Linked DNA regions of Homo sapiens: region 1 is linked to region 2. The links come from fine-mapping of genetic effects on gene expression. A gene starts in region 2. The other region holds a variant in brackets. All regions are shown on one strand. Distances are between the middles of the regions.

The links. PIP is the estimated chance that this variant, and not a neighbour inherited with it, causes the effect.
Region 1: its variant is the best candidate, but not a certain one, in a credible set for the expression of CYLD-AS1 in whole blood (INTERVAL, PIP 0.87).

Annotation. Positions count from the first base shown.
Region 1 is chr16:50,775,207-50,779,606 of GRCh38, forward strand. It overlaps CYLD (CYLD lysine 63 deubiquitinase), which reads left to right. Exons shown (of 19, transcript NM_001378743.1): 7 at 973-1,071; 8 at 2,619-2,735. Among named protein-coding and RNA genes, the nearest start is that of CYLD-AS2, 26 kb to the right of the region's middle. RefSeq lists a silencer at 3,240-3,399. The variant T/A (reference allele first, on the strand shown) is at 2,355.
Region 2 is chr16:50,740,831-50,745,230 of GRCh38, forward strand. It overlaps CYLD-AS1 (CYLD antisense RNA 1), which reads right to left and starts at 1,917. Exons shown (of 7, transcript NR_184279.1): 1 at 1,841-1,917; 2 at 498-574. It overlaps CYLD (CYLD lysine 63 deubiquitinase), which reads left to right and starts at 1,256. Exons shown (of 19, transcript NM_001378743.1): 1 at 1,256-1,294; 2 at 1,932-2,011. MIR3181 (microRNA 3181) reads left to right here and starts at 1,475; the gene lies at 1,475-1,547. RefSeq lists a silencer at 1,071-1,670 and an enhancer at 1,911-2,010.

The DNA.
Region 1 (4,400 bases), 34 kb after region 2:
GGATGTATTGTTGAATTTTTCAAAGGAAGAACTTTTCACACTGCCTCTTCTACATTCCCTTGATCAGTATTTAGGAGTATTCTATGATCATTGCTGGGCTTTAAGGTCTAGAGTGGTCTTTGTATTCAAAACAAGTTTGCCACACTTATTACACCTATATTTCAGAAATAATTGTGAGTGTTTTCTTCAAATATATTATTGTTGTGTGTCTCTGGCTTTCTGTATTTTTAATCTATGCATAATTCTCTATGTTTTCCTCTTTTATATGTATAAGTGTTTGTATACACATCTGTGTTATTCTTAACATATATGTTTTTAAAAACAGATATATGTTCTTAACCAGAACTTTCTTTCCTAACCATGATACATATTCCTAACCAGGCTTTTTTCAAACTGTGTTCATGAAATAATATTAATCTGAGATGCTAAGCAAAGTGGCACAAAAATTTTTATCAATAAGTTTATTTTGTTTCTCCCTGAGCAGTTCACAATGCACATTAGCATATTAAAGGCTCTGGTTCCGTGCAGTAAAGAAATTGTTTATCTTTGTTTATCTCAGCATCTTCAAGAAATATTTGAGTTCGAAACACTTCATAATACACAGGGGTGTTCTAAGCCTGCTGATTTGGGAAATGCTGTAAAAAACCGAGTAAGATTTTCTTTGTAGTGTTTTAAGAGATCAAATAAAATTGACTACAAGTGATTAAATTTTCAAGAGGTTAAAGCATTTAGCTGAATTGTATTTTGAGAGGGTATTTTCTTATAGAAATTACATTTTGAAATACAGCATTGGTTTTTTCCCCCATAGTATTATCTTTTTCAATACTTTTGATGGCCTTTAAAAGGCATTTGTAAAACTAAAAATTCTGCCTTTTTGTGGAAAGAGGGTTTTTTTATTTTGTTACTGTCATTCCTTGTTTCTCTTCTATAAGAATTTGCCTTTATCTTTAAAAAACATGCTTACTGTTTCAGAGAGTGTGACGCAGGAAAGGAGGCCTCCCAAACTTGCCTTTATGTCAAGAGGTGTTGGGGACAAAGGTTCATCCAGTCATAATAAACCAAAGGCTACAGGTATGGATTAATAGCATATAACCTTTAGTAATTTGCATAATGCCTAACTTGCCATAGCATTAAAAAAGATTATAAGCTATTACTTCTGAACATGTATGTAGACTTTTTTTCTTTCAAACATTTTTAGTAGTGAAACTAAAGTTTGTATATAAATACTGTTGCTTAAGCCAAGTGTTCCCAGCCTTTTTTACCTCAGGAAGAGTTCCCCATAGGGTCTTGTGTGTTTTGCTGGTCTATAATCAAATGGTTTTTGGAACTCCTTACTTGGAATATTTGTATGTATAGTTTAGGATTGCAACTGTGTAAAATAATCCTATATGGATAATGTTATATAGGATAAAGTATACTAGAGGTTAATTAAATGGATTTTGCTAACTAGATTTGGTACAAATTAAATCCCAAACTGCTAAGCAAAAATTTCTTCTCTTTCCCAGAAGCTTCCTCACAATATGTGTGGAGCTTACAGCTCTTTTTTTTGTTAGCTTCCACATACTTCATAGATTTATAGAATAGTAGTTATACAAGCCAAAGAGCTCATTAAAAAGGCTCTGAGAATTTTTGTTAACTCAGATGCGAGTTAGGAAAAGAATATTTTTTCCTCAATTATTACAATTTTGGCTCATTTAAAAGGAAATTGTACTTTAAGAATTATTTTATGTGACATTGGGGCCTGGGAGACTTAGGATTAATTGCAGGATATATAGGTAACAGTCTTTTTTATGTTAACCTATAGATCTATATAGGATAGCTCAAACTTGCTACTCTCACTTAAATAGAAACAGACTAAAGATTTTCTTAAGCTATGGCATGTTAATTGTATTGTAGTAGATCTTAAAGTTATAAAATGTACAGCTACCTGCTTTAATTTGAAAAGGGAAATCAGCTTTTTTGTGGGTTCTGGAGAGCCCACTGCCCTCCACTGTGTGTGGTATGTCCTTGAATTAATACTGAGGCAGGGTAATGTCATGAAATGGCTGTGGCATAGCTACACTCGCCCTCTCACGTATAATAAATCCAATCTGTAAGAAATAATAGTGCTTGATTTTTTCAAAGACACAAGGAATTTGATGACCAAAAATTCCAAAATGTTTAAAACTTAACTATTTTTAAATGTAATTTGTGTATTGATTTATATATAGAATTTGAGGATTACCTTCTTTTAAAATAATAGGTTAAATTTGTGAACCAATGGGTCTATGAAATGAAGCTGGAGAATGGTGATTTTGACATTTAGAAATAAGCTGTGGTACATGGAACAATTTCTTAAAGCAGTTCATTTTTTT[T/A]AAAAATGAGTGGGCTTTTCTTTTAACTTACTCCTGTTTCCCTCCTATCTTGACTTTTGGGCTGAAAAATATTTTTAATATTGTCAAAATGGTTACCAAATTTTTAAAAGCTGAAGACAGTTAAAAAACATATTGTGTTTATATACATTTATTGGTTATGTAAACAGTTATTAACATCATATTCATAATAATTTCTCTTACTAAAAAAAAACTTTGATGCTATATTGACTTTATTTTTAAATGAAACTTTTCTTGTTCCTATAGGATCTACCTCAGACCCTGGAAATAGAAACAGATCTGAATTATTTTATACCTTAAATGGGTCTTCTGTTGACTCACAACCACAATCCAAATCAAAAAATACATGGTACATTGATGAAGGTAATCAGTAATTTTAGTGTTCTTTATAATGATCCTTTCTTTCTAACTCATCAGAGAAAAATGGTTTTTTATATCAATATTTGTAGTTTTTGGAAACAGAATAAGTAGACCGCTCTTTGTAATATTGCTGAACTAAAATATTGTACACAGTTTGAACCGTACTGCTGTTAAGATTATTAAAATGTTTAAGAAATGTATTAGTAATTTGTTCTTTTCCTTTAACTGCTGATCTATTTAGGGTGGAAGATTTCTGTCTGGTTCCTTCCTGACCTCTTTAAAGCACTCCCTTTTAAAAAATTTTATCTTCCCTTGGTCCTGGGACATCATTTTCACCTAGTTTATTCTCTTCTTTGTTCATTTGTTCAACAAATATTTATTGAGTGCTTATGATTGCCAGGCATTCTTTTAGGCATCAAGATGAAAATGGTGAGAAAAAATAGACATGGTTCATGCCCTTTGTGAGTTTGCAGTTGTTAAGTTGTTGAGATAGAAATTAGTCAAACAACCACAGACACAGTAGAGTTGCCTTGGTGGTGTGTGCAGTGAAGGTGCATGATGCTGTGAGAATACACCAAAGATGATTTTTCTCAGGGTCTTAGGGGTGTTTCTTTGGGGCAGTGACACATGCTTAGGTTTACCAGAGGAGTGACAGATGACAAAGTGAAAGGGGCTAGAACTTCCTCGGGAGAAGAAATAGCATAGGGAAAGTCCTCCTGGAAGAATGGAAGCTAGTGTTTGCCAGGGACTAGAACACAGACAGAGGCATGACATTCATGAGATGAGAATGGAAAGGCAAACAGGCCTGACTCTGTGGTCTCCCAGCCTTTAGAGTTTTGCCTGCCACATTTGTTTTTAAGGCACCTGGAGCTGATTTTCATGTAAAGTATGAGTAGGATTCCTGTTTAATTTTTTTTTAAAAATATGGATAACCAATTATCTCAACAGCATTTAGTAAGAAGTTCATTCTTTTGTCATTGATCTGCAATACCTGCCTGTCAGCTGTATTAGTCATTTTAAGAAAATAGCTTTTGGCTGTGGCTCTCTTTATCATGTGTTTGGTTTCTCTTAAATTACATTCTGTGTTTGTGTTTATTCTGGCTTTGAACTTCTTATTGTATGTTTGTTTTCTCTCTTCTGTTGTTTCTGTTCTTTAGTTTATTCTTCTCTACTTTTTTGAGGGTTATTCTGTTCTTTTAACTTCCCAAGTTGTATGCTGAGTTCATATTTAGCTTTTGTTTTTTTCTGAAATAAGCAATGAAGTCTATAAAATTCCCTTATAAGTATTAATTTAGCCATGTTTCACAAGGATTCTTTCTTTCTTTGTTACTTTTTCTCTCTTTTTTCTTTATTGTTAAAACGTATTATTTCTTTTTTGATCCATTAGATATATAGAAGCGTTTCTTAAGGTTTTCGGTATCTTTTTGTACTGCCTTCTCAATTAATTGTATTTTGGACAAAGACTATCACGTATACGATACCCGCTGATAATAGATTTTTTTGGTTTGAACAGTTGGGTGCCATTGACTGAGGTGCATAAATATGGAGGTGGAGAGAGGAGCGAGAACACTGTTGGAGATAATAACTTTGTGATGCCTATGAGAGTACTATTAATAGCAGGGAGGTCAGGTGGGCAGTTGGACTAGATCTGTATATAAATTTTTAGAA
Region 2 (4,400 bases):
CAGGAGTAGAATGAGGCTTAGGTTTTCAAAAGATGCTCATTTCATTTTGGATGACTATGGCAAGGAAGAGTGGTGGCCTGTCTACTGCTACTGTTAGTCATCACTCATGTGACTGTTTTTATGTATTCATTGGTTTAAATTCCCTGGATCTCCAGAAACATGTCACTTTCCACTGGGGGAAATTTGTGTCATGATTAAAAACACACACACACACACACACACACACACACACACCCCTCCTCCTTTCTCAGTGTTAATCACCTTCTCCTATAATTAGCACTTAAAATGTCAAAGGAGAAGAAATTAATTAACAGGAGTATCCAGTGCAGCAAGGCTCTAGGACTGATTATAAAAAGCACTTCCTTAAATATTTTGAGTGCTTTTGGGAATCAGAAGCCTCCCTTCTAATTGAAAGATCCTTAACTACACCCTAAGTCCTGGCTGGTGGCCAGGGGTGCGGGGCTGAGTGAGGCGGCGTGTGGAAATCCCTTCTTCACCATCCTTGGGAAAATTCCCTCCAAACTGGGATAGGTGGCAACAGAGGTTCGGAAACAGCAAGCGTCCCAGGCTGAATCTGCGGAGGAGGAAGAGATGAACCTTTCCTGAGCTGGTACTGCGTGCCAGGAACTTTAGCTCGGTATTTTGCCACAATCCTGTAAGACAACCGATACTATGATCTCCATTTTACAGATGAGGACATTGAGGCTCAGCGTGGTTGTGACTTCCTCAGGTCACGCAGCCACTGAATGAAAGCGCCAAAGATTCAAACTGAGGTCTGATTCTAAAGCTTTGCTCTCTCACGGCATCCTGGAATCCTATTTCAACCTTCATCTGGACTCTTAACCCAGCCCAAACCTAAGCGTCTACAGTTTTGACAGCTGAGGCGGGAGCACGGGAGGCGGAGCTGGTGGCAGCGCAGCGCCCCGCCCCGGCTCCAGCATCAGCCAATGGTGACGCGGCACCCACAGCCTTTCGCCCAATCAGCTTGAGCTTCCCGCCTCCATCCGCCGCTCTTCTCTGCCCCGCCCCTTCGCTTTCCCTTTGGTTCCACCGAGCTTGACAGAGCGGAAAGTCCCTTCGGCCGGCGCCGGGCTGGCAGCCATTGGAGGAAGGTCTGTCACAGGGAGGCCCAATCACGGCCCGCTCAGGAGCGCAGCTCGGCCTACGATTGGCTAGCGCGGCGGCTGCCCCCTCCGCCCCCGCTCCCTCCCTCTTCCCTGTGCGGTTCGGAGGCGGGGCAGGTGGGGGCGGGCCCAGGTAGCAGGTTTGGCTGCGCGGGGGCCGCGCGTCGGAGGTAAATACTAGGGCGGTGGGTGTGGGGAGCCGGGGCCGGCCCGGGACGCGGGCTGGGGAGCCGGGGCGAGGGGCGACGCCCCGCCGCCCGAGGTTAGTGAATGAGCGGGCGGCTGGCGGCCGGCGGGCGGCCGGATCCCCTCGGCGCAGCCGCCTGGCCTCAGGGCGTCCGGAGCCGCCGCGGCGACCATCGGGCCCTCGGCGCCGGCCCGTTAGTTGCCCGGGCCCGAGCCGGCCGGGCCCGCGGGTTGCCGAGCCCGCTGACGTCAGCCCGGGTTTCCCCCCCCCACCGGGGCTTCCCCATCCCCCGAGGCTTCCCGGGAGGGCTGCGAGTCCGGGGAGCGTGCGGGGTCGCCACCATCGGGACCCCCAGAGGAGAGAGGACTTGGGGCGGGAGCCGCGCGGGACGCTGTCCCCCTCCCGCCCCCCACCCCATTTACAGATTGGGAGACTGAGGCACAGGCCGCTGGCGGGCCCCGACGGCCACGGTTGGCCTCAGGAGCCCGGGGCTGTGATTCCTACCGACCGCGCCGCGGGGCGTACGTACCGATCGATTTTGCGGGTGTTGGTGGCTCCCGTCCAGGAATGGCAGTCGGGGTTCTGGCCTTGTTAATGGCGTGTTCTGCTTTTTCTTTCAGTTTCCCCCTTTCTAGGGTGAGGATGGTTCTACACAGCCACCCGGAGTTCCTTAGTTGAAAGGTGCGCCCTGCTGTGACAGGTATTCTTTCTTTATGTTTTTCTTTCATGTTAACAATCGAGGGGGGTGGGGGGCGAATGGGGGGCGGGGGCGAAGTCATGAAATCTTCAGGAGATGGTGTTGAGTTTGGTACTCAGCTGGGTCAGCTGCCGGTTATTCATGTACTTGGCATCGTTTCTCTTCCACCCCTTGGCATTTGAATGTTTTAGGATAGTTGTCATCTTCCAGCCACCAAGCCTGTGGCCTTGCAGTCTCCCAGCCCCCATCATCCCTGCCACCTTCTTCTCCTCAATTTTTCCTGGAAAGTTTTATCCTTAGCTCAGCTAAGGAGCATGCCTACCTTGCTTTTGAATTCGGGCTAATTAGGGATCTTAATAAGATTGTTCATTTTGCAATCATTGGCTCTCAGAGAAGCACCCAGGCCTTGAGAGGGTGTTCGTTTGATTGTTGGCTTTCTACACACCCCCTCACGCCCCAAGTAGACTGAATGGCCTTAAGAATTTAGCCTCCCATTCCCCACTGAGCAGTAGGTGGATTTGAACTAGAACAGTATTAGGAGAAAATGATTTGCTGGAAATTCTTATTGAAGTAACACCCAGAACATTCTCTAATATTCTGCTGCAAAATTGTATAGTATTCTTGCAAATAAACCTTCCTCTGGGTGGTAACTTTTGTGAGAAGCAGATAAGGCTTGTTATATAAAGCACAACTAACATTAAGCAGCAATGATTTTTATAGTCTGGCACACCTAAACTGTGGTTTTGTTTGATTTAAGGAAGTCTCCAACACAGGGAGAGAGAAAGGAATAGTTATGTTGTTTATCAAACTATTAGTATTTTGTTCCTGATTTTCACACTATGATTTAAATTAGTTTTTTTTTCATTGGTTGTACAGAATTTATAAGCATCATACATGCTAGTTGAGGCTGTAGGAAGCTAGTATCAAATAAACCTCAAAACAACTTGGTTTCGTAATTGTGAAATTTTCCGTATTTGTTTCTTCTTATATGTATAACAATGAAGTGGTTTAGCATGATTTCATTTTATCTAGAGAATTACTGAAGTTTTAGGCAAAATTCATTAAATACTCCCAATTCCTGAGTCTTTTTCTCTTCTCTTTCTCTTGGTTTAATCCCTTAAACAGGAGGAGGAAATGCAATTTTGTTTTCACTGTTACCACTTGAGTCTTTCATTCATTTCTCTGTATTCAGTGCCTAGCATATGCCAGGCTCTCGTGTGGGCACTGGATAATATAAAAATGAAGGACTTGGGGAATTCACAGTTTGGCAGTGGAGTGGCTAGGTTTAACACTAGAGAGGCAGCAGTATTCCTTGTTCCAGTGGGAATATGCAGATGTGAGAGGCTCTTCTTTTCTTTTTTTTTTTTAACCTTATAAATCCCACTTGTATTAGGGACTGTGTACTTGTGACACAAATTAGTCATTGAGGAAAATTAAAACGGACTCAGTCTTTTTTCTGGCCACGGAATCTCTGTATCTCTATTCTTTAGCTGTTTAGAAATATAACAACTTTGTCTTTTAGTGAGAGATGTTCTCTTTTAAAAGGATGATCATTCTAGCTATCCAGAAGCTTTTGGAAAAAGGCCCACATGTCTTCTTTCTTTGGTGTTCAAGCTGACCTTCCTACCTCTTTGCCATTTATAATTAGGGGCAGAATTAAGTATTGTAAGTTTTATTCTAATTTAAATAGCTTCCTGTGGTTTTTAGAACAAGCAGGATATCTTTGGAGATGCAAAAAGCTCTTGAATTGGATCTGTCTTTGTGAGATCCTTATGAACAATATAACCTGATAACTTGAGAATCAGAAAAACACTGCATCTTCTGGATAAGTTAACCATTGTTAGTTTTCTGTAGCTACTGATGTTCATTTGTACTATATGTTGCCTTTCAGAATGTGGTAATTGTAATCTTTAACATTTTCATGTAAAACATATTTCCTGATCATCTTTCCATTGTCTTCATGGAAAATTGATAAATATTTGTGCCTTCCAACTCTCGTCTTGGTTGAATGACTTCATCTTAATACAAGTAAGTTCCCCTTTACTCAGAATCCAGACCATCAACAAGCTCAGATAACCAGAAATGTTTTCAAATCTATGTGAACCTGAACTGTTCTCCTTCATCAGCGTCCTTAAAGGAAAGGCCTTCTGTTCAACATGGCTTTAGGGTTAAACATATTATTGTGTTTCAACTCGTTGGTAATTTTCATTCAGTATTTATTACCAAGATATTCATAATCACACAGTTATCCAGCCTGAAGTAAGATAGTATTTAGATGAGTCATTTGTGATATACTCACTCAAAGTGATTCAACCTGCAAAATAATAAGAGAATACAAGTGAAAATTTCTCCCTTCACACTGACCCCTCACCCCCACCTGCCCTACGGTGAC